Regions from separate parts of the Homo sapiens genome. Here regions 1, 2, 3, 5, 6 and 7 are each reported to be linked to region 4. The links are microRNA targets in miRTarBase. Many come from high-throughput screens and were not tested one by one. Region 4 holds a microRNA gene; each other region holds the end of a gene's coding sequence.
The links. The annotated mature microRNA hsa-miR-140-3p reads UACCACAGGGUAGAACCACGG and lies in region 4 at 2,596-2,616, shown strand. An mRNA with a match to its seed (bases 2 to 7 or 8) in the 3' UTR can be bound and repressed. Matches are read on the target gene's strand: a 7mer-m8 pairs with bases 2 to 8, a 7mer-A1 pairs with bases 2 to 7 and ends in A, and an 8mer does both.

Region 1 (4,065 bases), not on the chromosome of region 4:
TTCTTCCTCCTCATCTTCCTCTTCCTCTCCCCCTTTGCCTTTACCGAGTTGTTCCCGCCAGGTGGATTTTGATGTAGGTAGTGCATCTATTTACAAGAGTGATGGCCAGATACCTGCCAATGAAATCTTTGTCACTAATGTCAGATCACTTGGTGTTCAGGAAAAGGCCAAATTAAATGATGAGAAAGCAAATGATGACACCAACAGAGATGGTGGCCCCCTCAGCCACGAACCTGTGGGAAATGACCTTGCTTTTGAGTGCAAAGGCCAATTTTATGATTATTTTGAGACCGGATATAATGAAAGAAACAATGTAAATGAATCTTGGAAAAAGTCCTTACGGAAAAAGGAGGCTTCACCACCAAGTAACAAACTGTGCTGCAGCAAAGGAAGTAAAATATGAGCCATCTTCTCACCGAACTTTGAAGCATGCACAGCATGATCAGTTAGCTCTCGTAAATTTTATTTTGAATGGATTTTGTAGTTTTGTACAACAGATAAAATTATGCCATGAACATGCCATGTCGTTTTAATGCCTGGAGAGCAGATTGCGTAAAACATCTGTATAGCAGGCATCAGCGAGCTTCTTATAAATGTGGTGATTTTTACCAAGGAAACGATTGACTTAATGCTTAAAAGTATATCATAGTTTTCTTACGGAAAAGATCAGTAGATGAGATTGGGGGACAATGTGCCCTTGCAATATTTCCATTGCCCCCCAAGGAGCCTGTCACTAGCTAAGAAATTTCTACATGTTTGCCAGTTAATTAGGGAGTTATTTGGTAAGCAAATCAATATAACCAGCAAAGATACCTGCTTCTTCTATATGATACAATATTTTTTTTAAATAAAAGACTAAAGACAGGGAGCTAGATGAAATGGCTTAATGGTGCTGTTAAGTATTTGTACCTAACAGTCTTGTGTGACAGATGAAAATAGGATGTAACATAATGAAACACACCTGTCTAGGGGCGGCAATCAACAGTCTTACACAGAGAGGGTATTCCCTGCAAGTTTCTGGCTTGCCTGTGATGGGTGATGAGGCTTTTAGAGAGGTGTTATACAGGGCGATTTTTGGTGCCTTACTTTTATCTTAATTTTTGCCAATGTGAAAATTAAGGATAAATCAGAGTTACAGCAGGGATTTAACAAACAGGACAAAAAAAAAAAAAAAAAAAAAACCACAGGGTGGATCAATATGGTTTGGAAACTGTTAACTTTGAACTATTGTGTTCAGCTTTTGATTCGACATCTCTATTCTTTATTTTTGATGCCCAATTGCTTTTGGATTCGCCGTTTTTTCAATAGGGATGGAGGAAATGAGAGAGAGAGCTGTTAGAAAGCAGCACGGGCTGCTCGAGCTTTTCTATGGCAACTGTGTGTTGCTGGGGTTGGGGTTTTCTGGGTTTTGGGTTGTTTTGTTTTGTTTTCTTGTCCAATGAAGTTCACGAACCAGTGGCATGCATTATACTTTTCTCTGTTTTGCATCATTTCACTTGTTTAGATTATAAAAGCATGTGGGTTTTTATATATGAACTTTGCTGTTGATTAAGAAGCACAATGTTAATAAATGATGTGGTGATCAATAAGGTTTATCTTAAAGAATGTAAAGACTTTAGGTTTTTGAAAGTTATTTTGGAGAAATGGGACTTAATCTATAATAGTTACTATGTATTTGGTCTACATTTTCCAAATAATATCTTTAACTTGTACATTTGAAAAGTGTTCAGAGTGGCCCTCCTACCATCCTTCCTTCCACTCCAGCCAACTCTTCCTGCTAAACTGTATTCCAGTTTCCAAGTTTACTAATTGACTTGGGCCTGTTCAAATAATACTTCACAGAAACCAAATGCCAAACGGAGGAAATAAGTAAGCCCTCCCAGTTTCTCCAAGATAAAGCTTTTTTTATTATTGCTATTAATATTAAATATAGGTCTCATTCATACAGTGTATGAGTAGGATCATTTGGACAATTGTCCACAAAGACCAATTTTTAAAACATTTTCTTGTGTTATAGTTAAATAGTCTAGTAATGTTTTGTCCTTTATTTTCAATATTTGATAAACATTTGATGTTCAAAACTTAGCTAATAGATGCTTGTATATGAATGTGTTGTAATAAAGTGAGGTTTTCTTGATATATATTTATTAAGATGATAAAAATTCATTAAGTTTTTTAAATTTTAATGGCTATTGGCTATGTTTCTCTTTTCCATTATTCTCTCTCCTTTAAAAAACTCAAAACATCTAGAAACTGTAGTGGATAGTGGCCACACAGGAGTTTTCTAAATTAAAGAGTATTTTAAAATGCCAATCTGACAGGTGTTTCAGAATGATCCTAGTTCGTAAGTTTAAGTTTCTATTGATTAAGAAGCACAATGTTAATAGATGATGTGGTGATCAATAAGGTTATGTCTGAAAGAATGTAAAGATTTTCCTTTCTGGAGTGTCTCTGAAAAAAATTGTATAACACGAAGCCATAAATACTGAATCTTAGCTGATTGCATTATGAACTGTCAAACTGTGAAGATGACCCATATGTAAACAGTTATAACAGCTACAGATTATTGCTAGTAGCATTCCATACAATTCCATATTAATGTTCTTAGGAGCTAATATTTGATAAAGGGGAAAGCTAGTTAAAAACTAATTAATTTGTCAAATGTAGCATTCTTATTATGAGTGTAATATCTCATGGAGATTTAAATATGAACGAAAGGACTTATCCTTCTGCTTTTTAAAAGCCCCAGCATTACTAGATAGTGTTTTTCTTGAAGGCCAAAGCTGTAAAATGACAAAGTTGGTGATTTTCAGCAGCACTCACCTGAGCTGTGAGCGCCTGCACCTGTTCGGTAGAACCCACTAGAATCACTTCTCTGTAGGATAAGTGATGCCTTTGAATCCAGCAGCATAAAAATCTGTTCTTTTTAGTCATCAAGTTTTTGTTTCCAGGATATTTCTAGCATTGCAAAAAAAAATTTCTTCACCAAACACTAATTCCTAAACACCCATCCAAACCACAAAAATTCTCTTGTTAGTAGGCGAGAGTGCTAGGACTTCCTGTGTTCACCTCCCATGCACCCAGCATTGTCTTTTATGCATGAGATATTCCATTAGATTTTCCTAGAGTGGCCAGGACACCCTTCATAGTAAGTTATATCTCTTAACTGGATTCTATAGTTTTATCTCGAGCAACTTGGAAAAGCTAAGACATCCTCCACCCACACTGGTATCTACGCGCCTGGAAGCTGCACCTTCTCTCATTGCTGTGCTCTGCTTTAAGGAAAACCTGATATGACAGAATCAAGACTATTAAAAGATAAATGAGGGGAAATCTTCATTTAAGAAAGTTGCCTTGCTCCCCAAGAGTGCCTTTAATTGCTATTCCCCTAGGCATCTGGGTGCATATCATTAATGAAATCATTAACCTTTGTCTCTGGTCCTTCCTTTCTAAAAACAGCAGATTATAGAAGGTGGTCTGGCAAAGGGATTTTCAAAGGGCAAAAGTCTCATCATCATCTTTCCACTCAAAATCCTATTATTCTACATTTCACTTTGCAGGGGTCCTAGGGACAGGATTGCAGGGACAGGGGACATGGGAGGAAGACAGAAAAATTCAAAACCAGCAGATGCCACTACCTGGCAATGAATTGAAAATTAGGGGAAAGCATCTTTGGCGTGACCTTTTATTAAGACAACAGAAATTTAGAACATTTTACATGCTTCTTTGTTAAATGGTGAAGCAAGGGAATGAAAGTATTTATTTTTAGAGCTCATAGTTAACTCCATCAAGACATGGCTACCCACCCCTCCAGTTATGAACTTGTATTACAGCTCCACTTGGTGACTTCCTTTCTGTGTATCAGGAGCAGAGCAGAGGACAACTTGTAGAAGACATGACCATTAAGAGACATCAACTTCGCAACAAATATAAGACAAGGATACAAGGATTCCTATGTGATGCAGCTAGGTTTTTATATCCTTCTAACAAATGGTGAGCAGGAGACTTTTTTGGAAATAATTAGTTGTGAAATTCCATTTTTCTGACAGCCCCTTAAATTTGAAG
Region 2 (4,066 bases), not on the chromosome of region 4:
CAGCCAGAGTTTTAGTTTGGGCAGCAGGGTCACAAAGCCGCCCCCTCCCTCGCAGCAGCTAGAGCCTGGGGCTGCGTCCAGGTTGGGTTGGAAATCTTGCTGGGGCCATCGAGTCACCGGACAGACAGGGATGTTGGGCACAGGGGTCCCCTGACTCAGTGACTTGGGAGGAGGGAGGCACGGGGCTAAAGCCTGGCTCCCCTCTGCCTCTTGGCTCTGTTCCCCTGAAGGCTGGAGCCTGGCTCCGGGTGGTGGGGAGACACCTGTCTTTTGCACCCAGACCCACGTGACTAGCGTGCTGGCCTGGGGCTGGTGTTGGACTTCGTCTCGGTCCTGGTCCTGGCGCCAGCCTGGCTGTGCCATGCTCACTGGTGGCATTTCTTCCCTGCCAGCCGCTCGTGTTTGGTGCCATGGTGCACAGGGATGAGGCCTTCGAGACCATTCTCAGCCAGTACATCAAGATCACCTCAGCGGCAGCGTCTGGCGGGGACAGCTAGTATTGACTTGCCCAGGACGTTGCTGGAATTTTCTTTTTCTTTTTCTTTTTCTTTTTTTTTTTTTACGATTTGGTAGTGGAAACAATTGGACATCCTCATGAGCTTTTGCAATAATTCTCCTGGACCTGTGGTTCTATTGTGTTGACCTCTGCGTTTTATCGACCAAGAAGGGGCCAGGGCTCACAGGGACGGGGGTGCCCCTCTCCCACAGGGCACGTCAGGTGCCTCTGAGGGCCACCCGCAGACTGGGGGAGGGGGCAGAGGCCCTCGGGGGCCCGTGGAGAAGACACACAGGACCCCTGGCCCTGCCCTTCTCCGTTCCAGCCTGGACAGAGAAACCTCTCCAGCCACCCCAAGAGGTTCTCGCAACCTTGTGTCCCGCTCTCCAGAGGCCAGAAGCTCGTCCACCACCAAAGCCATAGCTGAAGAGTGCGGGGCCCTTCCTCCTGGGGACAGAAAGATGTCGTCAAGGAGGGACATGGGGGCCTTTCACCAACCACCGAGAAACGGGCCTGGCGGCCCTCCTTCCTCTTACATGAGACCCTCCTGTGGCATTTGCCCTTGGTGCCGGGCTGGGGCCGGGCGCAGTGACCCTGCCTGCGCTCCACACTCGCTCCACGGGAACAGAGAGGGTGAGAAGGGCCCACCCCTCGCCTGCCCTCAGTGTCTTTGGTGGCACCTTCCTTGCTGGCCTCCAGGGCGCTCAGCACCGCGTCTGTAAGGGCCTGCCTGCTGCTCTCGGCCTGACACGCCGGCCAGGAGGTCTGTAGCTGGGGACCAGTAAGGGCACAGGATGGTGCAGGTAAAAGCACATCTTTCTCACACTTTGCTCTTTGGAAGGCCCAGGAGAACATCCGCGAAGGCTGTTGGAGGTGCTCCGAGCACTGTGGCATGTCTGGCACATGGCCCCCAGGCTGCGGTTGCCTGGGTTGGTTGGGGGAGGAAGTGGGGAGGAGTGTTCCGGGACCATGGTGGCCCAGGCTGCAGCCGCCTTTGGGCCATCCGAGAGGCTCTGGCAGCCCCTGTGCTTTAGGGAGCAACCGTGAGCCGAGCCCAGAGGCCTGGGCCTGCACTGCCTGCAGCCGACATGCGACAGCGTTCCCTCCCCCGCGTGCCTAGCCGGTGCCGGTCCGGGCACAGACCCCCCCAGCCCCCGCCCTGCCCCAGGGAAGCCTGGGCTTCCCGGGAACAAGGTGGCATTTGTGGAGGGAGCGCCCGCAGGCCTGGTCTGCTGGGGCCGCCTGCGCTGGGCTGAAGGGAGGGAAAGGCGGCTTGGGCCTCCTGGAAGGAGGTGGCCACCCCGCGGGCCTGCGTGTCTGCTGGGGCGGATCCCGCAGCTCCCTCAGCTTGTCCTGAGTCCCTTGGGTGTCGTTGAGATTGTTGTTTTTTGAAGAAACAGAAGATTCTATTTTTTACAGCGAGCAAGCTGGTTTTCTTATTTTTGTATCCTTTTTCAGATGTAATTTTTATCTTTGCTCCGATCCTCATTTGCTGGTGTGGGTGAGGGATCCGGCGGCATGGGCTGGTTTCACCCCCTTCACGAGGGGCCGCAGAGTCACACGCTGGTGCCGGGGGTGCTTTGGGGGGAGCTGCGCCGATCACCAGATTAAGCACATGTCCTATCCCAGGCGGTGGAGCGGAGCCCCCGTGGCTCTGGACTGCGCGGACGTTGGCGTCAGGATGACCACACGGCGGCCTTTCCCGAATGGGGACAGAACCCGCTCTGAGCCGTGGGTCTGGCTCCTGTAGGGGACTGGCTCTCTTGGTGCACCAGGGGAGGGGGACATATCCCAGTGAACCCCACCTTGGCGCCTGAGGCAACACAGGGTGGGCACTGACCCACCCCCAGGGGCGGCTGCAGAGGCAGTGCCCGCAGACAATGGCCACACCTCTCTCCCCAGGGCCCGGCAGTGCCCAAGGATGGGTCCGGGGCCTCGGGGCCAATGAGCGCCTCTTCCTAGGTGCTGGGATTCAGTCCCCAAACACAGCGGGAGGGGTCCCTGGGGCAGATGGGGCTTTACCAGCGTCGGGTGGTTTAGTTCGAGTCCCTTTTGTGGAGAAAGGGAGATGAAAACTGACCACGTGCCAGGTGTGGCCGAAGCCCCCAGGGAGGGCCACATTCGGGGAGCGGGGGGTCGGGGGAGGGCCACCGACTGGCTCTGCTGCCAGCACAGGCCCCTCCCTGGAAGTCCTCGGGAGCGGAGCGCGGATCGGCACGGGCTCTGGGCTCCCCGTGGAGAGAAGCTGTAGTTTTTACCAAATTGTGTACATCTGGGCAGATGTTTAATTTCTGTGACTAATCACTGAACTAGACGAATGTTAAATTTTTTATGTCTGAAGCCTGAGTCTATTTTGGATCTGTAAATAATCATTGCCAGTGTGACTTTTGTTCAACAAAAGGATTGTACTGTATTAAGAACCGATGAAAAAAATTCTCCTGTAACATTTTTTTAAGAAAACTTTGTTTGTTTAAAGAAAAAGTATTGTATAAATTATAATTTTTATTTAAATAAACCTAAAATGCTTTGTGCTAAGGCTCAGGGCTGTCTGCCTCCTTGGCAGGGCCACACGCATTGTAGGCGGCCTGAGCCAGCTGGGCCACCAACCCCAGGCCCTCAGTGCCGCTGCCAGCCCGCCACTCCCTGGGGCCCCACGGCTGCCGGCGGCGGGGCGTTTGGGTACTGATGCGGCCTGAGTGACGGCTGTGGGGTGAGGTGGGGCTGAGAAGCAGAGTCCTGTTGGACGTGGGCATTGGAGGCTGGGAGCAGGGGGCAGGGCCTGAGTTCCAGAAGACAGGAGGCCAGGTGGCGAGGGACGCGGCCTGCAGGGAGGGTACCCAGGGCTGGCACAGGGCGAAGTGGGGGAGGTTGAGGCAGAGGCAGTGCCTTGGGGTCAGGGGGCATGCAGGCTTTGGCCCCTCTCCACTTTGGTGTCCTGGCTGCCTGGGGGTTCTGGACACAGGGGTTTCCAGCAACACTTGGGGCTTGGTCCATCTGGATGCTGAGACTAGACACAGAAGGGTGCAAGGACCTGCCTGGCTTTTGAAACCCCTGGAGTTGGGCATGAGCCTGTGCCAGGTGCACCTGGTGCTGCCTAGCCTCCTGTGCCTCAAGCCCACAGGAGCCCCCTTGGAGGCAGAGACCTCCCCAGGTTACACAGCAAGGGAGCTGGAGCCAGGCGGAAACTAGGTCTAGTGGGCCACGCCACCCTAAGGGGCACAGCTTCGGAAAGTAGGACATATGCGTACTCCATCGACATAGCCAGCCACTGATCCATCCATTCATCCACATCTGTCCGTCCGTCCGTCCGTCCGTCCATCCATCCATCCATCCATCCATCCATCCACCCACCCATTCATCCATCCACCCACCCATTCATCCCTCCATCCATTCATCCATCCACCTACCCACTCATCCATCAATCCATCCACCCACCTATTCATCCACCCATCCATCCATCCATCCACCCACCCACCCATCCATCCACCCACCCATCCATCCATCCACCCACCCATCCATCCATCCATCCACCCACCCACCTATCCATTCACCTACCCATCCATCCATCCA
Region 3 (4,066 bases), not on the chromosome of region 4:
CAACTGAAAATCCAAGTCAAAGAGGAGCCTGTGGAGGAGGCTGAAGAAGAGGCACCCGAGGCCAGCACAGCCCCCAAAGAAGCGGGTCCTAGCAAAGAAGCCAGCCTGTGGCCCTGCGAGAAGTGTGGGAAGATGTTCACGGTGCATAAGCAGCTGGAGCGTCACCAGGAGCTTCTGTGCTCTGTGAAACCATTTATTTGTCACGTGTGCAACAAAGCTTTTCGCACTAATTTTCGACTCTGGAGTCACTTCCAATCGCACATGTCTCAGGCTTCAGAGGAATCGGCACATAAGGAATCTGAGGTGTGCCCTGTTCCCACAAACTCTCCCTCTCCACCACCTCTGCCACCGCCACCACCACTGCCCAAGATCCAGCCTCTGGAGCCTGACAGCCCCACAGGCCTGTCCGAAAACCCAACTCCAGCCACAGAAAAACTGTTTGTGCCCCAAGAATCAGACACCCTTTTTTACCATGCCCCACCCCTTTCAGCAATCACATTTAAAAGACAGTTTATGTGTAAACTTTGCCACAGGACATTCAAGACTGCATTTAGTCTTTGGAGTCACGAACAAACACACAATTGAAAGACCAACACTTTTTACCTATGGGAGGCAGTCCCCAGATTTCAACCTGAATTGTGAAATGTGTCATAAGAAACAAAATATTTTTTAAACAAGAATAATAAAGGTTGGAGATTGTTACGCTTGAAATTAAGTTGGAGGCAAATTGATAATTACTTAGTAATGTCCTTAACTTTAGAAATACAGCTTTTAAAATATTGTGGTTCTGGACCTTACAAGAACAAGATGGTTTGATTTCATTAATGTTGAAATTGGATTAGTCTTGATTGTGTGCATGGTTCCTCATTCCATGGTGTCAGTATAATCATTTAATTGAGGTTTTTGGTTTTTTATTGATTAGTGGAATACTGTCGAAGTATTCCTTCTTTTAATTATTTTAGACACTTGAGTTCTAGTTAAATCTTAACCATGTTCTTAAGTCCAAAATAGGAAGAAGTGGAGTAGTTTGCAGTATTGATTTATATCTTAGACTACTTTAGCAATAAAAGATAAATCTCAACTTTAATAAGTTATCCTGACACTTGATAAAAATAAATATTTGGTATTTTGTGGTCATGTAAAACTTCTTTTTGTATGAAAATTGTGAGAAATTTAAATCAGCAATAGTAACACTTAGATTTTTATAAACTAACAAAAACTTGCTCTCAGTCAATATAATAAATGATAGTTAAACTCTAAGGAAGACCTGGGAAATGAAAACAATTTATGGAAGTCCCCTACAGTCAGTTTATAAGGGCTTCAGTAGTGATAGACATTGTTATAAAAACTTGTACCATGTTACATGTACACTGCACCACAGTCTAAATTCAGACCAGCATTTGAAGGACTGCACATATTTCATTTCCTCTGATTTATGCTGTCACAAATTGAAAATCTGAGTGTAGTTAGGACAAAAAACAAAGCTAACCATATGGCACTAATTTTGATTTTAACATTAGTGTAACAAATAAGGTCGGGACATATATTTACATAGATCCCAGACACTCAAGAATTAGCACAGCTGATGTAAAATTCTAAATTACCATTTACTTCCAGATAGAGCAGAGGAGAAACACCTCACTGCAGTTTCAACATGCTTTCCAAGAACAATATATACGACATATACATTTTCCTGCCTCTCTCTTGTGACAATTTCTGTTAGAATTTGTTGGGGGTCTGATGGTTAAAATCATGGGCAAGGCCATTCTCTACATCATTGCTTAATATTTCAAAAATAGGTATTAGAGCACTATCAGTGGTCCAAAATTAGTTTTAGCTACTTATTTTGCTCCATGGGTTTTGGGCTTTTCAAAGAATACTATGTATAATTTGTAATTGAAAGCCTTTCAGTAGGATATCCAAAGTTCAATGTGTTTCAAAAGGGAAAACTTTTACTTGTGGGGGTGGGAGTTAGATGTATTAAAAAAACGAAACTACAAAATCCTTTTAAGAAAGTAATACCAATTTAGACTCTAGTTTGTGTTACGAGGTATTCTTTCAAATTTTTTTTAAAAGCCAACTACTGTCATTAAGAAATAATTTTAGATTTGTGCTCTAGCAGAAAATAACTCTGTACCCATCAATCTTATTGCCAACATTCCATACCAGTGGTAGGAAAGATATTCTCATTTTTTTTATTGAACCAGACATTTTTATAAAATACTGATTGACTTTGTACATTATGGATATTATATATGAAATTTTGCCTTGTATTCTTTCACTTGAAAAAACTCCAAAATTCCACAATATTTTAGTAGTTAACTTCCTATTCTTTCTTAAATTTGATGGAGAAGGGAAAATAAATTGCAGTTATTGATTCTTGCCATCTTTGTTTTCTTAAAGAAATCTATGCATTTTAAGGATAAAACTAAAGCATATGGGTTTACATGAAACATCAGGATGGATTATTGTACATTGAATTCATTCCGCGTATAATGTGGTATTTCTTACTCTGTCCATCTTGGTAGCTGTCACTTCAAAAGAAGACAGTTTCCCTGAGTAATCATCACCTACATGGCCATTAGAGTATCTATCGGTGATAATTCCATGATACAGAGTATCTTGGCATTATAAATTCAGTATCCCAGGACCTAAACCTTTATGCTACATTTTCGAAGATTTTTTAAAAATAATATTGTTAATCAGTAAAAAAAAAAAATATTTTTGATCTAAACATAGGTTCTGCATATCTGTTAGATTTTAAAAATGACTGGTGTTTTGTCTTCACATTTTTGTCTAAGCAAGGAATATAAGATTTCAAATAAAATTTTGAACCAAAAACATTTATAATGCCGTTCTGGTTTTTCTATTACTTTTTATACTGTACTTTAAAAGCATTAGGCTGAAAGAGTTTATTTTGGTGGTCAAAAAAAATATGCTTCCACTCATGTAACTATTTTAAATGTTAAGAAGTAAAATAATGAAAGATATGTTAATTACTTTATTCAGTAAAGTTTTTTAAGAATGTTTATCTCAGCCAGTAGGCAAATACTTGGTGTAAAACAAGTTGGTCTTAAATTGTTGCAACTCATTAGCTAGTGAAGATATTCATGTAAATATATTTTAGGATTGTAATTAATTTTGAAAATGTAGAAAGCTCTTTATTCCATGTAAGTATGCAGGATGCCTGCTTTTTTATGCAGTTGTGGAAAGAATGTAAAATGTTTTAATATATTCTTTGTTAATCTGAGAACTTGATACTGAATCGTTTATGTGGGAGAAGGAAGGAGTAACATAAAACATGTTTTTATCACTCAAAGTAAGCAATGGAGGTAACAAATATTGTGCATTTTAACAGTAATATTTGAAGATTTGTAGAATATTCACCTTTAAAACTAGTTAGTATGCATTTATAATTTTACCAGAATATACAACTAACAATTCAACAGTGATGTTCTTTGCATTTGTGGGGAGATGTGTGATGTTCTTGGTTTTCTGGTTTGGAATGGAACGTTTATAGCCTTGCCTGTAAAAATGTGCCCCAGCACTTAATGAGTGACCGTTTGAATCCATATGTAGTCCCATTGGTGCTAATGAGAGTAGCTGCTGTGAAACAGGAATAAAATGTGTCTGTTCACGGAGGTGCGGTGTGGATGCACCTACAAGGCCAACTCTCTGATCAGGGTGAGGGAGAGATGGAAGAATTAACAGATCTAAAGTTGGCCTTTGTTGTCTCAAATTGGGTTTGTACACACATGCATGCATGTGTGTATACAACTGTAATCTGGAACTTCAGGAAGTAAAATTATTTGAAGTTTCTTAGTAAAAAGTAATTAGGTATAATTCCAAATAGATTTCTGTATAAATTGTATCTAACTGGATTACAAGTCAGTTTGACAATTTACGATGTCTCAGTGATGTTTCTGCAATAATTGTGAAATGCATTATTGATTTAAATAATGCTGACACGTACTCTTTAAAAGTGTTCTTTAACACTGACTACTAAACTTTAAGTTTTAAAAAATAGGTTTTCATTTATGGCTTTTTGTGGTTTTAGCACTTTAAG
Region 4 (4,066 bases):
AAATTAGCTGGATGTGGTGGTGCATGCCTGTAGTCCCAGCTACATAGGAGGCTGAGGTGGGAGGATCCCTTGAGCTCAGGAGTTTGAGGCTGCAGTGAGCTATGATGGCACCACTGCACTCCAGCTCAGGTGACAGAGTGAGTCCCTGTTTCTAAAAAATAATAATACATTTAAAATTAGCTCGGTGTGGTAGCACACTCCTGTAGTCCTAGCTACTTGGAAAGCTAAAGCGGGAGGATCGCTTAAGACCAGGAATTCGAGGCCGCAGTGAGCCATGATCACACCACTGCACTGCAGCCTGGGTGACAGAGCAAGACCCCGTCTCTAGAAAACGAACAAACAAATAAATAAGATGGGATGGGGAGGAAGGGACTATCCTGTTTATTCCGAATGACACTAGAGTTATTTCTCTAAAAGCAAGAAGTCTGGCTTTATTTCTAGATTTTCTTTTTTATTCTTCAAGGATCTTAATGACAGTCACTTCCTCACCTTACATTACTAATCTTTAAATTAACATAGCACCAGCTTTCCTTAGGGCTGACAAAGACAAATTGTTCATTTTCTGAGAAATCGCATGAACCCCTGAACATCTTTGCTCTTCCTAGGACGAAGCAAGGTTCCCCTGGTGCTTATGACCGCAGTTTTCGGTGGAAGTATCACCAGTTCCGTTTCCTCTGCCATGTGAGTTCTGGTACTGGGGCTCCCGTGGCAGTTGGGGTTATTGAGTTATTTCAGTGTGAGTTCCCGGCACAGCAGCAGGTATCGGAATGTTTGTGTCTTAGGCGGGCGCAAGACACTTGTCTAACCCGGAGCTGGCTGTCTCTAGGAAGCTAGTTTTCATTCCTAGGGCACATGCTATTGCCTCCTGGCCCAGCAGGCTGGGGAATGCCTGTTCATACAGACAGGAGAACAGATGACCACTTGAGGCTCGATTTAAAGTTCTTTTCTTTTTTTTTTTTCAGTCAAATGCCCTACCTAGCCACGTGAAGATCAGCGTTTCCAGGCAGACGCTTTTCGAAGATTCCTTCCAACAGGTTAGATCATGGTGCCCGAAACCAGTGGCAGGCCGACGCCCTCCTCCCAGCACCCCATCTCCTATCGCGTGGCCTGTTAAACCCACACTGCAGACTTTCCAGGGCGTGAGTCTTGGTGACTGTGTCTGCTGGATATTGGGCCTTAGAGTCCCCTGTCCCTCCCGCCCCTGCCTGCTGTGGAAGGGAGAGTGGCAGGCTGGCCCGATGCTCTGTCTTCCCAGATCATGAACATGAAACCCTATGACCTGCGCCGCCGGCTCTACATCATCATGCGTGGCGAGGAGGGCCTGGACTATGGGGGCATCGCCAGGTGAGCTTGAGTGCCCCGGAAGGCTGCCCTGTACCCCGCTTCCCCAGGCTACAGCATCAATGGCCAGAAAGCTGCCTGCCCCCTGCTCACATTCCCTCCCAAAGCTCTCATGCATCTTCAGGAATGGGCACAGTGTGGCATTCAAAATACGTGAACCCGCCAGGCGCGGTGGCTCACGCCTATAATCCCAGCACTTTGGGAGGCTGAGGCAGGTGGATCACCTGAGGTCGGGGGTTCGAGACCAGCCTGACCAACATGGAGAAACCCCGTCTCTATTAAAAATACACAATTAGCTGGGCGTGGTGGTGCATGCCTGTAATCCCAGCTCCTGGGGAGGCTGAGGCGGGAGAATCGCTTGAACCTGGGAGGCAGGAGGTTGCAGTGAGCCGAGATCGTGCCATTGCACTCCATCCTGGGCAACAAGAGCGAAACTCCATCTCAAAAACAAAACAAACAAAAAAACAAAATACGTGAATCCATGTGGCCAGTCCATTGGGCCTGGAACAGGGGCCTGGGGTGCCCCACTGGGCTGGACATTAAGCCTTTAGTTACTGGGTCATGAGGCGACGGAGGACTCCTGGGAGGGGCGAGAGCTCAGTACAATGGCTCTGTTATCTACCAATGTGTCATGTTTCTGTACTTTAACAACCAGGCCAGCAGCATCTGGGCAGTTGAATATAGGGGCCATGTGGTCATCCATTAGAGTTGACCCTGGGATCCCCTCCTCTTAAGGCAGCCAGGGCAGGTGAAGTCAGGTGTCCCCGTGTGGATAAGCTGTGTCACGATCCACAGGGCCTTGAGCAGGGCTCAACTGCATGTCACATGCCTGGGGTCAGTAAAACTGTAACGGCTTATGTCACCCTAAAAAGAGTCCAAAGCATTGTCTTGCCTTCACCCTGGTCCACCCATAAAAGTTAACAGGCCCTCTGGGAAATGCTGCCTTGGACAGCAGGGCAGAAGGGCCCCGGCAGAGAGAGAGAGCGCTGTGGCCCGCAGCGACCTCTCCGCTCGAGACCTCTCCCGGTGTGGGCATGTCTTCCCGCTTGGTGTTGGGTTAACTTGCTTCTGGTCCTCTGTTCGGTGGTGGCGTTGCCTTCTGCGCTGGCCCCGTGGATGGATGTTCCTTTTTTCCGTGGTGACCTCCTCTCCAGGCTCTGCTTGGTGGGCTTCTGGTGTGGCCGCGCCCTGTGTGTGTCTCTCTCTGTGTCCTGCCAGTGGTTTTACCCTATGGTAGGTTACGTCATGCTGTTCTACCACAGGGTAGAACCACGGACAGGATACCGGGGCACCCTCTGCGTCGACGGACTCCTCGTCTGCCCAGCCACAAACAGCCCAGCAGCTGGGGACTGGCCCCCTTGGGACATCCCCTTGCTGGTTTAGCTCAAGCCCAAAAGGACTCTGAATTCATGCCTGAGGCTCGCACCCAGGGCACGGGTGTTGGTTCAGATGAATGCGTGGAAGTGTGGGAACGGGGATGGTGTTGGGGTCTGGGGGTGAAGGGAGGGCAAAGTGCAAGAGTGTTGCATAGCTGGTGGGCATGAGGTTTCTCATCTGAAGGCAGCATGGATTACATTGTCATGGATCGGGGTTGGAAATGTGTTGCTGTGTATTTACGTTATGTTGCCCGCCCAGGTAGAGTGGAAACAGGGTAGTTACTATTCAAACAGAACCTTTGCAGAAAAATTATTGTAATAAACATGCATCGTGCCCTTGTGCAGTGCACAGCCTAGGCAACTGAGCATGGTGACCCAGGGTACAAGGACCCCCTTTACCATTAGAAGCTCTGGATATTGTGATGTAAAGTCTTGGAACACATCACCTGGGAGCCGACAATCACACGTTTTCCCAAATATCATCCTCAAATGCAGTTGCCGCCCTGGTTCACTGTAGGTCTGAGCCTGCCCTGTTCACTGACCAGCTGTTCATATAGGTTAGCCCGGGTGCTTGTCACAGGGCTCGACTCCCTGGGACACGTGTCCCCATACTAACCTGAGACACGATGGTGAAGAGACACAGCTCCTGTGCAGATGTGCACGAAGGGACCCATTATTCTTGTCTTTTCTGTCTCTTCCCTCACAGAGAGTGGTTTTTCCTCCTGTCTCATGAGGTGCTCAACCCTATGTATTGTTTATTTGAATATGCCGGAAAGAACAATTACTGCCTGCAGATCAACCCCGCCTCCTCCATCAACCCGGACCACCTCACCTACTTTCGCTTTATAGGCAGATTCATCGCCATGGTAAGGGGGCCCCAGGGGTCTGCCTAGTTCCCTCCTCCTCTCCCTCCTCTTCCCTCTCCTGGTGAAGTGTGCCAGGGGCACCAGGGGAATCTGCTCTTTCTCTGAGACCTCCAGGAAGGGGCAGCATTGGAGGAGGCCCTGGGCCTGTTCACCAGGAGGCAGCGTGGCGTGAACGGCAGCCCCCGTGGACTGGCTCACCCTCTCGGGGCTCCACCCTTTGCCCCCATAGAGCTCGTAACCTAAAAATGCAAGAAGCTAGAGAGAGTTCTGGAGAAACCAGAGCTTTCTCAGTGGCTGCCCTGTAGGTAGTGAAGAGTTTCCATGTTGCTTTGTACAGGACTTGTCAAGAGGGAGCCCAGGGTCGCTGGGCCACAGACTTTACTGAACATTAAATATGTGCTCTGTTGAGGGCCTTGGGATGACAGGGCCAGGTGAAACCATAGCTGCCCACCTGCTGCCTGTCTCTGGGAGGTGACACTGTCA
Region 5 (4,066 bases), not on the chromosome of region 4:
GGCTGCCTGCAGATGGTGTGGGAGACGCTGGGGCCACCCACCACGGCTGGGCTGAGCTGCTCAAGGGAGGCTGACTGAGGGGCTGCTCTCTGCCCATCAGTGTGGGTGGGTCAGTTTGTCTGTGGCTTCTGGAATTCCTGTGAGGAACCGAGAGGGACTGAGAGCCAGCCCTGGCTGGAAGGGGTCTCTCCCTGAGCAGCCTCTTGGGGCAGCACTAGGGTGGGCAGAACTTGGGAGCTCCCTGGTGGTCTGAGGTGTGGCCGGGAAGGCAGGGCTGAGACCAGCCGGGTGCCCCTGCCCACCCACTCCTGGCGTGGTGTCGGCTCTGCACAGAGTGCACACGCACCTGTGTCCTCCTTTCCCTGACATGAAAGATGCATTTGCCCAGGTTCAAAAAGGGCTTGTGGAAGTCTTGAAGCAGCTGGGCAAGGTGGTGCCTGGAAGCCTGAGATCCTGCCGGCTGGACCAAATGCGTTGTCCACAACTACAGCCGCTGATGAGTGTCTGGCTGCTCACCTGTCCCCTAGGGGCCCCGCTGAGCCCCCAGGCTGCATCCCCTGGCCCGCCACGGAGAGGACTCCACCCCACCCTCATTTCCCAGGGGAGGAGCCGGGCCTCTGGGACTTGCGGAGGGGCCTGCAAGTGAGGACCGTGGCTACCAGGGACCTGGCGGCTGCAGATGCTTTGTGGGAGGCCTGTGTGCAGCCCTTCGTCCTGCCCGGAGCTGGGACCTACTAAGCAGTGGAGTTCAGCAGGGCTGGGTGGAGCTGCATCTCCCTCCTGGGGTGCCCACCCACCCCTCTGTGCTCTCACGCTCACAAGGGGCCTGGAGGTCCCAGTTGCTAGGGGGCCCTCTATTCCTGGGTCCCAGATGATGGAAACGCAATGTTAAAAATGTTCACCAGACCAACCTGTACTGGCTGCAATTCTCAATAAAGCAGTTGAGGGACACACCCAGAACAGTGGGCGCTTCTGCCAGTGCCGCCGTGCCACTTAGCCTCTGGCCATGACCCCACAGGAACAGGAGCGGGGCTATAGGGAGCCCCTAGGGTTATACAGGACCCTCCGCCTCGAGAGAAAGGTGGCTGGGGACAAACTGGACCACCAGGGCATCCTTGGGACAATGCTGGTTCCTTCTCTCTAGCCCCTTGGGCATCTCTGAGGCCACCTGGCAGGAACCAGAACCTTCCAGGGGTAGAGGATCTCTGTGCTGTGTGTGCCCAGAGCAGGGGCAGGAGGCAGGAAGAGGTAGATGGGAGGTGGGGCCTGCTGGAGGCCATCTGGGTCTCCGTGCCCTGGCCTTTTCCTTCTCCCCTGCACCAAGGAGAGGGGCGGACAGACCGGAGTCTGTCCAGGGCAAGGTGGAGCTGCAGACAGGCTGAAGGGCGCAGCTGGCAGGGGCTGCACGTTCACCCCAAACACGGAAGTGTGGTCCATGCCCAAGCCCCAGACAGACAGACACACACACACATACGCACACATTCTCTCTCCCCCCGAGGCCTCGCCCTGCTGTAGGTTTCCAGCCTTTTATTCATACAAGGACTCAAAAGAACACACGTCACCCGCTGACACTGAGCGGTGGGGGGACCTTGTGGAGGAAGGACACAGCAGGCTTGGCCACTGCCCTGACCAGTGACCACTCAGGGCTGCCCCTTCCAGAGATGAGCGTAGGGTGGGGTCTGAGCGCCACCCCTAGGCCGTCTGTGTGCAGCGGGAGTGCTGCTGTCCTGGCGCCCGGCATCACTGTGCCAGAGTCCCCAGCCCACCCTGGCACTGGCAGGGTTATTATGGGGTGGACTTGCCTGTGTTGGGGGCTCCTGATCCCAAAACATCTAAAGTCAGGTTCCAGAGAACAAGCCATGGGGACCTGACCAGCAACCGGGGACCTCCGTCCACTGTGCGGGACGGTGATGAAAAGCAAAGCAGCACTAAGCGGCCTCCTCAGGGTCAGTCGGTTCAGGACAGCTGCCCCCAGACCCTCCAAGTCCTCCTCCCCCTGCAGGACCCCTTCCCAACACCACACCACCCCTCCCCAGGGCCGCCTGGCAGCTGGGGCACAGGAGGGAAGGAGGGCCCGTCCAGGCCTGGGGCAGGGCCCTGATGGCCTCAGTGAGTGACAGGAGGTCACCAGGGTCCAAGGTGGGCCCTGCGGCCCTCCGAAGCCATCTGGGAGGAGCGAACAGCTCTCCATGAACAAGGACAGGAAGTGTCAGTAAATGGATGCATGTTTGGAAAAGCCCTTAACTATCCAGGTCCCCGTGCCCTGCAGCTGGCTGGGTCGGGAAGGGACCTAGGCATTCCCGTCTGCAGTGCGGGGTCTCACCAGCCACCAGCATCCCTGTGAGCAGGTGACAGCTGAGGGTCACTCTGAGCCCTGACCTGTGTCACCGTGAACAGGGAGGCCCTGGTTCCTGATCTGGGTGAGGATGGGAGCAGGCGGGTCCTGGCTGCTCCTCAGCCCTCGGGGTCCTCCAACAGCCCTGGACCCCAGCAAGGCCTGCCCTGTGAGCCCTGTGTGCGAGGGGCAGCCCACATTGGCAGAGCCCACGCTGCCTCCCTGGGCCTTTGGGCCCAGCTTCCCCTCCTCCAGCAGAAGCGCAGGTGGGTCAGTGGCCCCTCATCTGCGCATGGAGGGCCCCTCACTGCAGGTCTGTGGGAGGACAGTCCTCAGACTCCTCAGCAGTGGTGCTGTCTCAGGCGTCACCCTGCAGACGCTGGGGCCCCTCAAGGGCGCAGGGAGGTGGGGCCGGGCTCTGCAGCCTGCGCTGAGGGGAGGGCATCATGCATCATCTCAGAGGCTCTGCCAGACCCTGGATGGCGGACACCCAGACAGCCCGTGCGGGGCTTCTCTGGAGGCTGGGGGGTGGGCCAGGGCTGGCTGGTGGGCTCTGCTGGGAGTCCCAGTGGGAGGAGGCGGGGAGGAAGGCACAGGCTCGCTGTGGGCTCCAGCGGGTTGCTTTGAGGCCTCCTCTGTAGGCCTCGAGGGGCTGCTTCTGCGGCGGTGCAGGGAGCTGGGGGGAGGGCTAGGCAGCCGGAGGTGCCCCTGAGGTCCCTGAAATACATGGCTTTTGGGCACACTGGCTCCCAGCTGACCTGAGGACCTCATACAAAATTAAAAGGCAGAAAGGCAGGCGAGGCCAGGCCTGGGGCTGGGACCTCTGCGCCTGCCCCTGCTCAGAGCCGCCGGCCCTCCCTGTCCCACCCCAGGCCTCTCCAGGCTGAGGTGAATTAAATATCGTCTGTGTTGTATTTTTGGCAAAGTCAGTCCTTGGCCTCTGTCCCTGGGGCCTTGGGGCAGTTACCGCCACCGGGGCCTGGCTACTGTAAGGGCCAGGAAGAGGAGGAGGGGCAGGAGGAAGGTCGGGGGCTGGGGGCAGCTGGCAGCCGAGGTCTTCTGTCCTTCCTGCTCTGACAGGCCTGGGAGGGCATGGGTCAAGGGCGTCCGGGAGCTGGAGCTCTTCCTGCTGACCTTCCGGCTGCAGAGGTCATCCAGACAGCCATCACCGCTGCCCGAGCCGCTGCCGTCGTCACCTGGGAAGGAGAGGAGGCTCCGGCAGGCAGGTCCCCACAGGAGACCCCAGTGCAGCACCACCCTGTAAGGGCCCGTGCCAGGTGACCCCAACATCCTTTCGGTGTGGAATCCCAGGACCAGCAGCACCTGATCCCCGCTGACCCCTGAGGCTGGGAGACTCTCACTCCCTGGGGCTGCCTCCCTTGGTCCCTGGAGCCAAAGCCAACAGACATCCCGGCCAGGCCTCCAGGGCGCCGCAGAGGTGCAGGGCTCGGTGATCGTGCCTGGGCAGCACAGCGTCCTCAGACTCACTGTGGTGATGCCGGAGCAGAGGGCCCCTCGGGTGGGGGAACCCGGAGGGCAGTCACACCCCTGTGGCACCCCCACCAACCCTGGCCCCTTGGCCGCCCGGCCAGGCCCTGCCCTCACTGGCGTCCTGGAAGTCCACGTCGTTGCCGTTGTAGGCGCTGCGCAGCCGGTTGGTCATGATCTTCAGCTGCATGATCTGCTGCCGGATGGTCATGTCCGGCTTGGTGATGTCCACCTCCACCTCGG
Region 6 (4,061 bases), not on the chromosome of region 4:
GCCCCCGGGTTCTCCCATCTGGGAGGAGCAAGGCTGGGCAAGGCGCCCATTTGGGGCCTCACTATACTGAAACCCTCATTCTGTCTCCAGGTCTTGCCGCCTTGGTAGCTTGCTCCTGGTATGGCCATCAGATTGTCACAGACTTTTATAACCCTTTGATCCCTACCAACATTAAGTAAGTCTGGGAACCCTGCCTCCTAAGGGGACAGGTCTGGGGTCCTGGAATAGGGAGGAGGGCAGAGGCACGCCAGGGTTTCTAACCACCCCCTTCTCTTCACAGGTATGAGTTTGGCCCTGCCATCTTTATTGGCTGGGCAGGGTCTGCCCTAGTCATCCTGGGAGGTGCACTGCTCTCCTGTTCCTGTCCTGGGAATGAGAGCAAGGCTGGGTACCGTGTACCCCGCTCTTACCCTAAGTCCAACTCTTCCAAGGAGTATGTGTGACCTGGGATCTCCTTGCCCCAGCCTGACAGGCTATGGGAGTGTCTAGATGCCTGAAAGGGCCTGGGGCTGAGCTCAGCCTGTGGGCAGGGTGCCGGACAAAGGCCTCCTGGTCACTCTGTCCCTGCACTCCATGTATAGTCCTCTTGGGTTGGGGGTGGGGGGGTGCCGTTGGTGGGAGAGACAAAAAGAGGGAGAGTGTGCTTTTTGTACAGTAATAAAAAATAAGTATTGGGAAGCAGGCTTTTTTCCCTTCAGGGCCTCTGCTTTCCTCCCGTCCAGATCCTTGCAGGGAGCTTGGAACCTTAGTGCACCTACTTCAGTTCAGAACACTTAGCACCCCACTGACTCCACTGACAATTGACTAAAAGATGCAGGTGCTCGTATCTCGACATTCATTCCCACCCCCCTCTTATTTAAATAGCTACCAAAGTACTTCTTTTTTAATAAAAAAATAAAGATTTTTATTAGGTACGGGGGTGTTCTACTCTCTCACATTACCCCATGTCTTCATCCTACCTTCTGTCCTGATGAGACGCTGCTTCCTGGCTCACAAGGCGGGGCTCCATAGACAAGGGGAACCAAGGTGGGGCAGGGACAGGGTAAGGCTAACACAAACAATAGAAAGATGGTTCTGGGCCCAAAGTCTTCCCGCGCCCCCTCCAATTACAATCTAATCAAATCTGGCCAGTCAAATATCCAGGTCGTCATCTGGGTCTTCTTGGTCCAGGTCATCATAAGCATCTGGCTCATAGAAGATGTGGCTGGTAGCCTGCCCTGGCCTAGGCCGCAGGAGAGCCTGCTGTCTGAGAAGGGAAGATTTGGTGCTGGTGAGGGTAGCTAACAGGTTGGGTCTGGATACTTTCTTCCAGGTGACTGTGACTCTCATTCAGGCAACCTGTTAGGCCTCCATGTCATTTTATTGGTCCAAGTCCCTTTCTCTGACCTCCATGTTAGAGCTGAAGCACCATTTGGTACTGGGATAGATACCCTTGTACTGCTCTCCTAATAAAACCGTAAGTTCCTAGCAGCTTGAGGGCAAGGATCTTGTAGTCTTGCGTCATCCGCCCACATACTGGGCACAGAACAGCAAGCGTGTACTAAGCCCTTGTTAACCAGCCTCTGCCACGCCCATATAGCCTTCTGTCCTCCTAGCACCACTGCCTAGGGATAGGGCCACCTCCCAAGGGTCTGGTCTGGCTCAGCCCAGGCCCAGGGTGCTCTGGGGACAACTGGAGCTGTGACCCAAGGGTATAAGGGAGAGAAAAGAGACATAAAGGTCCTCTGCCATTATAGGGGGAATGGGTGGATCAAGAACTTGGACTTGTCTCTGGAGGTGGACTTCAGTCCCTATAAAGTCAGGTTAATCAATAACCTGTTGCCCCAACCTCTCCATGGCCCAGATGCTGGGATCTACTCAGGGATCCACGTACCCAGGTCCCAACCTTACTTTTCAGAACTGAACTGGAAGGGCAGGATCAGGCTATCTCTGGCTTCTCTCTCTTTCTTGGACAGGTGAAGGTTAAAGGTCAAATGAGTTGTGGGATCCACCTGTAGGTACAAAGGATGCTGCCACTCTGCCCCATCCCTAGAATCCCTGACCCCACCCCCAACCTCTGCAGCTTTTATTTTCTCTCCCGTGACCAGATACTAAACTACATTTCCTTGTTCTGGCCTTGGCATTCTTAGATACCGGGGGTATATGAGGATCGGAGTAGGGCTGGGACTCTACAGAGGGCCCCTCTTGGAGATCCAGGCTGAAGTCCGGAAGGATGGAGAACCACTGAGTCTGGAGAGAAAAAAGAAAAGAGTTTTTTTCATCTTACTGAAGAAACTAGACAGACTCCAGGACCTCACATCCTCAGCCCCCAATCACCTATTTAACTGACTGCTTTCAGCTCCTGCCCTCAACTTTTTTTTTTTTTTTTGAGACAGGGTCTGGCTTTGTTGCCCAGGCTGGAGTACAGTGGCGTGATCTTAGCTCACTGCAACCTCCGCCTCCCAGGTTCAAGTGATTCTCCTGCCTCAGCCTCCCGAGTAGCTGGGATTACAGGCACGTGCTACCACACCCAGCTAATTTTTGTCTTTTTAGTAGAGATGGGGTTTTGCTATATTGGCCAGGCTGGTCTCAAACCACTAACCTCAGGTGATCTGCCCACTTCGGCCTCCCAAAATGCTGGGATTACAGGTGTAAGCCACTGCGCCCAGCCTCTATTTTATTTTCAAAAGTGAAAGCAAGTTGATTAAGGAAGTAAAGGAATAAAAGGATGGCGACTCCTTAGGCAGAGCAGCCCACTTACTCCTTTTTTGAGACGGAGTCTCACTCTGTTGCCCAGGCTGGAGTGTAGTGGCATGATCTCGGCTCACCTCAACCTCCGCCTCCCAGGTTCAAGTGATTCTCCCACCTCAGCCTCCCGAATAGCTGGGACTACAGGCACCCACCACTATGCCCAGCTAATTTTTGTATTTTTAGTAGAGATGAGATTTCACCATGTTAGCCAGGCCGGTCTCGAACTCCTGACCTCACAATCTGCCCACCTCGGCCCCCCAAAGTGCTGGGATTATGGGCCTGAGCCACCTCGCCTGGGCCCCACTTACACTTTATAACCTTGGTAAGTGACTTAAATTTAAACCTCCTTGGGCCGGGTGCAGTGGATCACACCTGTAATCCCAGCACTTTGGGAGACCAAGGCCAGAGGATGGCTTGAGCCTAGTTATTCAAGACCAGCCTGGGCAACAGGGTGAGATCTCATCTGTATAAAAAACTAAAAAGCTGGCTGGATGTGGTGCTACATGCCTGTGCTCCCACCTCCAGCTACACCAGAGGCTGAGGCAGGAGGATCACTTGAACATGGGAGGTCAAAGCTGCCGTAAGTTATGATTGCACCACAGCACTCCAGCCTGGGCAACAGTGAGACCTTGTCCAATAAAAAAAAAAAAAAAAACTCCAAGGGAATAAAACCCTCCCTGGACTGGCTTTCCAGCCTGAAAAATGGTGATAATAAAACAATCTACCTTAACCATAGCTGAGAGGATTAAATGAAGTGAGTGATAGAAAACAGAGAAATACCTAAATCAGCTTTTTTTAAAAAAAGGTCTCACTGAGGGCTGGGCACAGTGGCTCACGTCTGTAATCCTAGCACTTTGGGAGGCTGAGGTGGAAGGATCACTTGAGCCCAGAAGTTTGAGACCACCCTGACCAACACAGTGAAACCCCATCTCTAAAAAAGTTTGTTTTTAAAGTCTCCTTGAAACATCAGCATTTTCATTGTTCTTCCCATCGTGCCACCCCTTTCTCTGTCCCCCGTTTCCAGTCCTTCTCTGTTGGTTCTTCTGACCTGGTCAGTTGGGCGCTGTCGGGGCCTCCGACACAGGATGTGGGCCGAGGCCTGGCCCATGGTACCGCCCAGGGTCACCTCAGTCTGAGCAAGGCTGCTGAGAGCTCCCACAGGGCCTGGTCCATGAAGCTCTTCATGTAGCAAGCCCAGCACACTCACTTTCCCCACTGAGGAGCTGTCACCTAGAGGAGGACAAGAAATGTAGGATAGTAGGGAGCATTCAGGTTGGTGGCCTGGGAGCTAACAGTGAAGAAGAGAGAGCCTCACAATTCCATCACAGTGC
Region 7 (4,062 bases), not on the chromosome of region 4:
TAGCTATCATTGAGTTGCTTGTATAGGTTACTCTTCAGTAATATACTGTAATCTATTTTCTCTATAGAGTGACCATTTGCGGAATGGGCCTGACAACTAGAATTGCAAGAATATTAGAAATCATGTTTCATTCTATTTCTATGAACAAACTAAACTTACAAGTGTTGCTTCTTAAAAAAACAGAGCTTGATGATAAAAACAAACAAACAAACAAAAAAACAAACAAACAAAAAACCATTGAGACAAGCCTGGCCGACATGGTGAAACTACATCTCTACTAAAAATACAAAAAATTAGCTAGGCGTGGTGGTGCATGCCTGTAGTCCCAGCTACATGGGAGGCTGAGGCAGGAGAATCACTTGAACCTGGGAGGCGGAGGTTGCAGTAAGCCGAGATTGTGTCACTGAACTCCAGCCTGGGTGACAGTGAGACTTGGTCTCAAAAAAAAAAAACAAAAACAAAAAACTAACCAGCAATGTTTATTTCCTTATGAAGCTTATATTTCACCTGTACAAAGGGCATTTAATATTCTTTAATCTTTTATAATCAAGCATTTTTCAATAAGTATTTTGGAGTTAATGTGACATAGCAGGGATTGTTTTAAACACTGAAATTTAGAGCTCATTTTTGTAATTTGGTTTGCTTTCTAGTATTTCCCCAGAATTACTGTATCATCCATAAGTTCAAAAAAAATACCATTTGAGAGAGCAAAAAGAGACCACAGAAGTTTAATGCATTTTAAAAAATTAGAGATATTTTGTACTTTTTTATTGTTGAAAAAATGATTAGAAAACCCATCTCTGAAGCTACTTTTTAAGTTTTTTCATATCTTTGTGTCTCTTTCTCTCTCTGTTATTTAAATATATCAATATATAATAATTAAAAAATATTAATCCAATTTATATTTTATATATAAAGAGAGAGATAAAACATACAGGAAAGCCTAGGTTAGATATACTAAAGTATACAAGTACGTGCCAATATAAACATATATAATATATTAATCCAGCTGCAGTGTGAATGTATGTATACACATACTAATTCGGTTAGTCTTCTTCGTTTCATTTTCTTGCTTTTCCTAAGAACAGGTATTTTATATGAAACGACACTTTTAATACTAGAGAAACAGAGAGACTTGTTTAACCAGATCACTCATTTGTTTAAATATACACTATGTGCTAGGCATTGTACCAGGAACTGAGATAAAGATGATAAACATTGTCCCTGCTCTCATAGAACTTACAGTGAAGCTAGAATAGATAGACTCTAAACACATGACCACATGTCTATATGCTCTATAAACTCTAAAGTCACCTTCATGAGAAAATGTTATGAATAAAAAGTACAGAGTGCTATGACAGTATATAAAAGGGATCTTAATCTGGGAGGAGTAAGAGTTATAAAGATTGTATCAAGAAAATGATATGTAAGCTATCCCCAAAGGAAGGAAAGATGGGAGGTAGCTAAGTGAAAATGAGGGGTGGGTGGATTACACATGCTAAAGCCCTGTTGGATTACCTGTAGACAAGAAGGAGAAAAGAAGGTGAACAAATTACAATTTAATCAAAATCTACCATGAGCCAGATTATTGATTTTAGTATAACATCTGACTACCTGAGGGTCAGGATAACTTATTAATTCATTAAGTCATTCCATGCCACACATTTGGAATGCAGAGTTGGATGAAATATGGTCGATGTTCTAGGAGAGCTCTTAATACAGTTAGATGAAGAAACCTATAAACAAATAAAAGCAATGGAATATATTTGTTGTAGTGCAGATGTCTAGAAGATGCTATGAGAACACCAAGATGCAAACCACAAGCTTTGCTGAGTGTGCCAAGGAAAATTCACGAAGGAGATATTGCTTGAACTGAGTTCTGAAGGATGAATAAGCCTCCTCTTATACGCAGGAAAACGTAAATGCTTTCCAGGTAGAGACCCTAGCAAATACAAAGTCATGAGCCTGGGGAAAGAACATGCCTAGTTAGGGAACTGAACGCCTGACTATAGTGAATGTGAGGCACAAGGGAAGTTGAAGTACTGATGATCAGGAGTGAGATGAGACAGAACCTCATTCATCATGTTTAGCAACTTTTATTTCATGTCTAGGAAACAGGGAGCCATTTAAGAATTTAGATAGGAAAATCTTATCCTATTTGTGTTTTCTAAAGACCCCAGAGGCTATTGGTGCTGTGAAGGAGTAACTGGAAGGGGGCTGAACATGGAGAAAAGTTGAACCAATGCAATGGTATTGGGGAATGAGGGCCCTCTCTGCCAGCCAGAGAAGAGCAGAGGTAATATTTTGAATAATGTAGAATTAAAGATAAATAGTAACTGTATAAGAAGGAGAAACAACATCAGTGGTTTAGAAATCTTTTATTGTTTCTCCAAATGACAATACAAGTACCAAAAACCAACATGACACACAGGAAAAAATAAAAGTGCAATTTTAATATAGTGAATGTGATACATGTATAATTCCTCATAACAAAATGGTCAAAACCTTTAAAAGATCCACAATAGATATCTGAAAATCTTAGCAATGCTATATATATTTTGAGGACTAAATGATGAATTTATATTCAAATTGTTCAAATATATTTTCAAAACTTTCAGAGCACAGATCATTGTTAATTTTGCTTTTATTTAAAAAACCAAGAGAATACATTTCTATGTAAATTAGCAATCAGGAATTTATCTGTTTTTGGGCTTCTTCATCTATCTAAAGTGTATATTTAGTGACCAGAATTATAGTCATCCTATAGTGAAAAAATAGCATACAAAATCAAAGTTTAATGAGTAAATCATGACATTATGCCATACTAAGAAGACATCAAACGTCTAAAACCATAGGAAGAGAATATATTAGCCCTTACAGAACTTAAATTTTTAGAAATTCTGAATAAGGAAATATATTCTGCACAGATAACGGTATGACACACCCAGTGTTCTAATACAGTACAACTTAAATAGCATCCTAGGGTAAAGAGTAACATATTCCCCAAGAAACAGAACTAAAATATTTCCTATTTTATGAGAAGAGTGAGTAAGAACAACAGGATACCTCCCTCAACAGCACACTAATAAAACATTATTTCCATACGAAATCCACAGCCTTTTCGGTAAGACTTTAAGGAATGTATGATAGAAATACAATAGTTATCTTCAATTCAATATTCATTGAAAGACTAATAACCAGTGATTCTTTGCTCACAATATGGTCAATTGCCAAAGGGTTCAATAACTTATCAGGTAAAATAACAGTAAATAGTGGAAATACTATATTAGTACTTCATTAGCTGAGCTGTAAACTTCAGGGAGAAGCGTAGGCTTTCCCCCACACTCTTCAAAGTAGGGAATCCATGTAGAAAATGGAAAAAAACCAACCCTTCCTTCTTATTCTTACTGGGTCCAGGGATCTCCAGAAAACTGCTCCGCTGAAGACTGGGCAATTTTATGATGCATGGTCTTTTTTGTTACTCAGTTTTTCTTGTTTCCACTGTTGAGAAAAGAGTTATATTAGTATAACCAATTCCCACACTCTTGTATGCTACATTTGGTTTTCAAAAGCGTTTGGTGGGGGAAAAAAATCAATAAAAGCAAAGAGCAGACAAAAAATAGATGTCAGTAATGAGCTCTGTGTAATTGTTCAGGCATGTAAGATTGGTGATAAAGGTTTACCCAGAACATTCCAGAAAAAAAGTTTCCTTATTCTTCTTAACAACCTTATAATTCTAAGCATAGTCTAAATCCTACAGAGAGAATAAGGACATTGTGAAGTATATGCTTTCCATAGAAGATATTAAAACACCACAAAGATCAAAGGGACAAATACCTGTCCAAAATTTTCTGGATGACTTTCTTTAGAAAAGGGGCTTCCGGGTCCAGACAAACTTGCTTCCCGTTCTTCAGGGAGGCTCTGAAGTAAAGAAAAAGAGGATGCACCCATGAGCCACAAAGGTTGACGACCCAGGCTGGAGGACTTGCCTAAGTCACAGTGGACACAGCAACACAGGAGAACTTACACCACTTCCACCTTGGAGCACTGCGGGCCTGCGGG

Region 1: the mRNA of SERTAD4 is a reported target of hsa-miR-140-3p. The part of its 3' UTR that is shown has no 7-base or 8-base seed match.
Region 2: the mRNA of GRAMD4 is a reported target of hsa-miR-140-3p. Seed matches in the 3' UTR shown: 7mer-m8 at 623-629.
Region 3: miRTarBase lists ZBTB21 as a target of hsa-miR-140-3p. Seed matches in the 3' UTR shown: 7mer-A1 at 2,497-2,503.
Region 5: the mRNA of GPC1 is a reported target of hsa-miR-140-3p. The part of its 3' UTR that is shown has no 7-base or 8-base seed match.
Region 6: miRTarBase lists CLDN7 as a target of hsa-miR-140-3p. The part of its 3' UTR that is shown has no 7-base or 8-base seed match.
Region 7: the mRNA of CXCL6 is a reported target of hsa-miR-140-3p. The part of its 3' UTR that is shown has no 7-base or 8-base seed match.

Annotation. Positions count from the first base shown.
Region 1 is chr1:210,241,935-210,245,999 of GRCh38, forward strand. It overlaps SERTAD4 (SERTA domain containing 4), which reads left to right. Exons shown (of 4, transcript NM_019605.5): 4 at 1-4,065. The coding sequence ends at 403. Among named protein-coding and RNA genes, the nearest start is that of SERTAD4-AS1, 10 kb to the left of the region's middle.
Region 2 is chr22:46,676,755-46,680,820 of GRCh38, forward strand. It overlaps GRAMD4 (GRAM domain containing 4), which reads left to right. Exons shown (of 19, transcript NM_015124.5): 19 at 393-3,031. The coding sequence ends at 497. Among named protein-coding and RNA genes, the nearest start is that of GRAMD4, 58 kb to the left of the region's middle.
Region 3 is chr21:41,987,414-41,991,479 of GRCh38, reverse strand. ZBTB21 (zinc finger and BTB domain containing 21) reads left to right here. Exons shown (of 3, transcript NM_001098402.2): 3 at 1-4,066. The coding sequence ends at 585. Among named protein-coding and RNA genes, the nearest start is that of ZNF295-AS1, 20 kb to the left of the region's middle.
Region 4 is chr16:69,930,547-69,934,612 of GRCh38, forward strand. It overlaps MIR140 (microRNA 140), which reads left to right and starts at 2,535; the gene lies at 2,535-2,634. It overlaps WWP2 (WW domain containing E3 ubiquitin protein ligase 2), which reads left to right. Exons shown (of 24, transcript NM_001270454.2): 14 at 606-681; 15 at 963-1,034; 16 at 1,256-1,344; 17 at 3,424-3,583. RefSeq lists a silencer at 3,116-3,306.
Region 5 is chr2:240,465,523-240,469,588 of GRCh38, reverse strand. It overlaps GPC1 (glypican 1), which reads right to left. Exons shown (of 9, transcript NM_002081.3): 8 at 3,941-4,066; 9 at 1,513-3,531. The coding sequence ends at 3,299. It also overlaps a transcript of ANKMY1 not described here. Among named protein-coding and RNA genes, the nearest start is that of GPC1-AS1, 11 kb to the right of the region's middle.
Region 6 is chr17:7,256,756-7,260,816 of GRCh38, reverse strand. CLDN7 (claudin 7) reads left to right here. Exons shown (of 4, transcript NM_001307.6): 3 at 91-175; 4 at 281-914. The coding sequence ends at 443. ELP5 (elongator acetyltransferase complex subunit 5) reads right to left here. Exons shown (of 8, transcript NM_203414.3): 5 at 3,779-3,960; 6 at 2,134-2,229; 7 at 1,891-1,991; 8 at 880-1,246. The coding sequence ends at 1,132. Among named protein-coding and RNA genes, the nearest start is that of CLDN7, 3.7 kb to the left of the region's middle.
Region 7 is chr4:73,837,062-73,841,123 of GRCh38, reverse strand. It overlaps CXCL6 (C-X-C motif chemokine ligand 6), which reads right to left. Exons shown (of 4, transcript NM_002993.4): 2 at 4,028-4,062; 3 at 3,838-3,921; 4 at 2,364-3,501. The coding sequence ends at 3,483. Among named protein-coding and RNA genes, the nearest start is that of CXCL6, 2.4 kb to the right of the region's middle.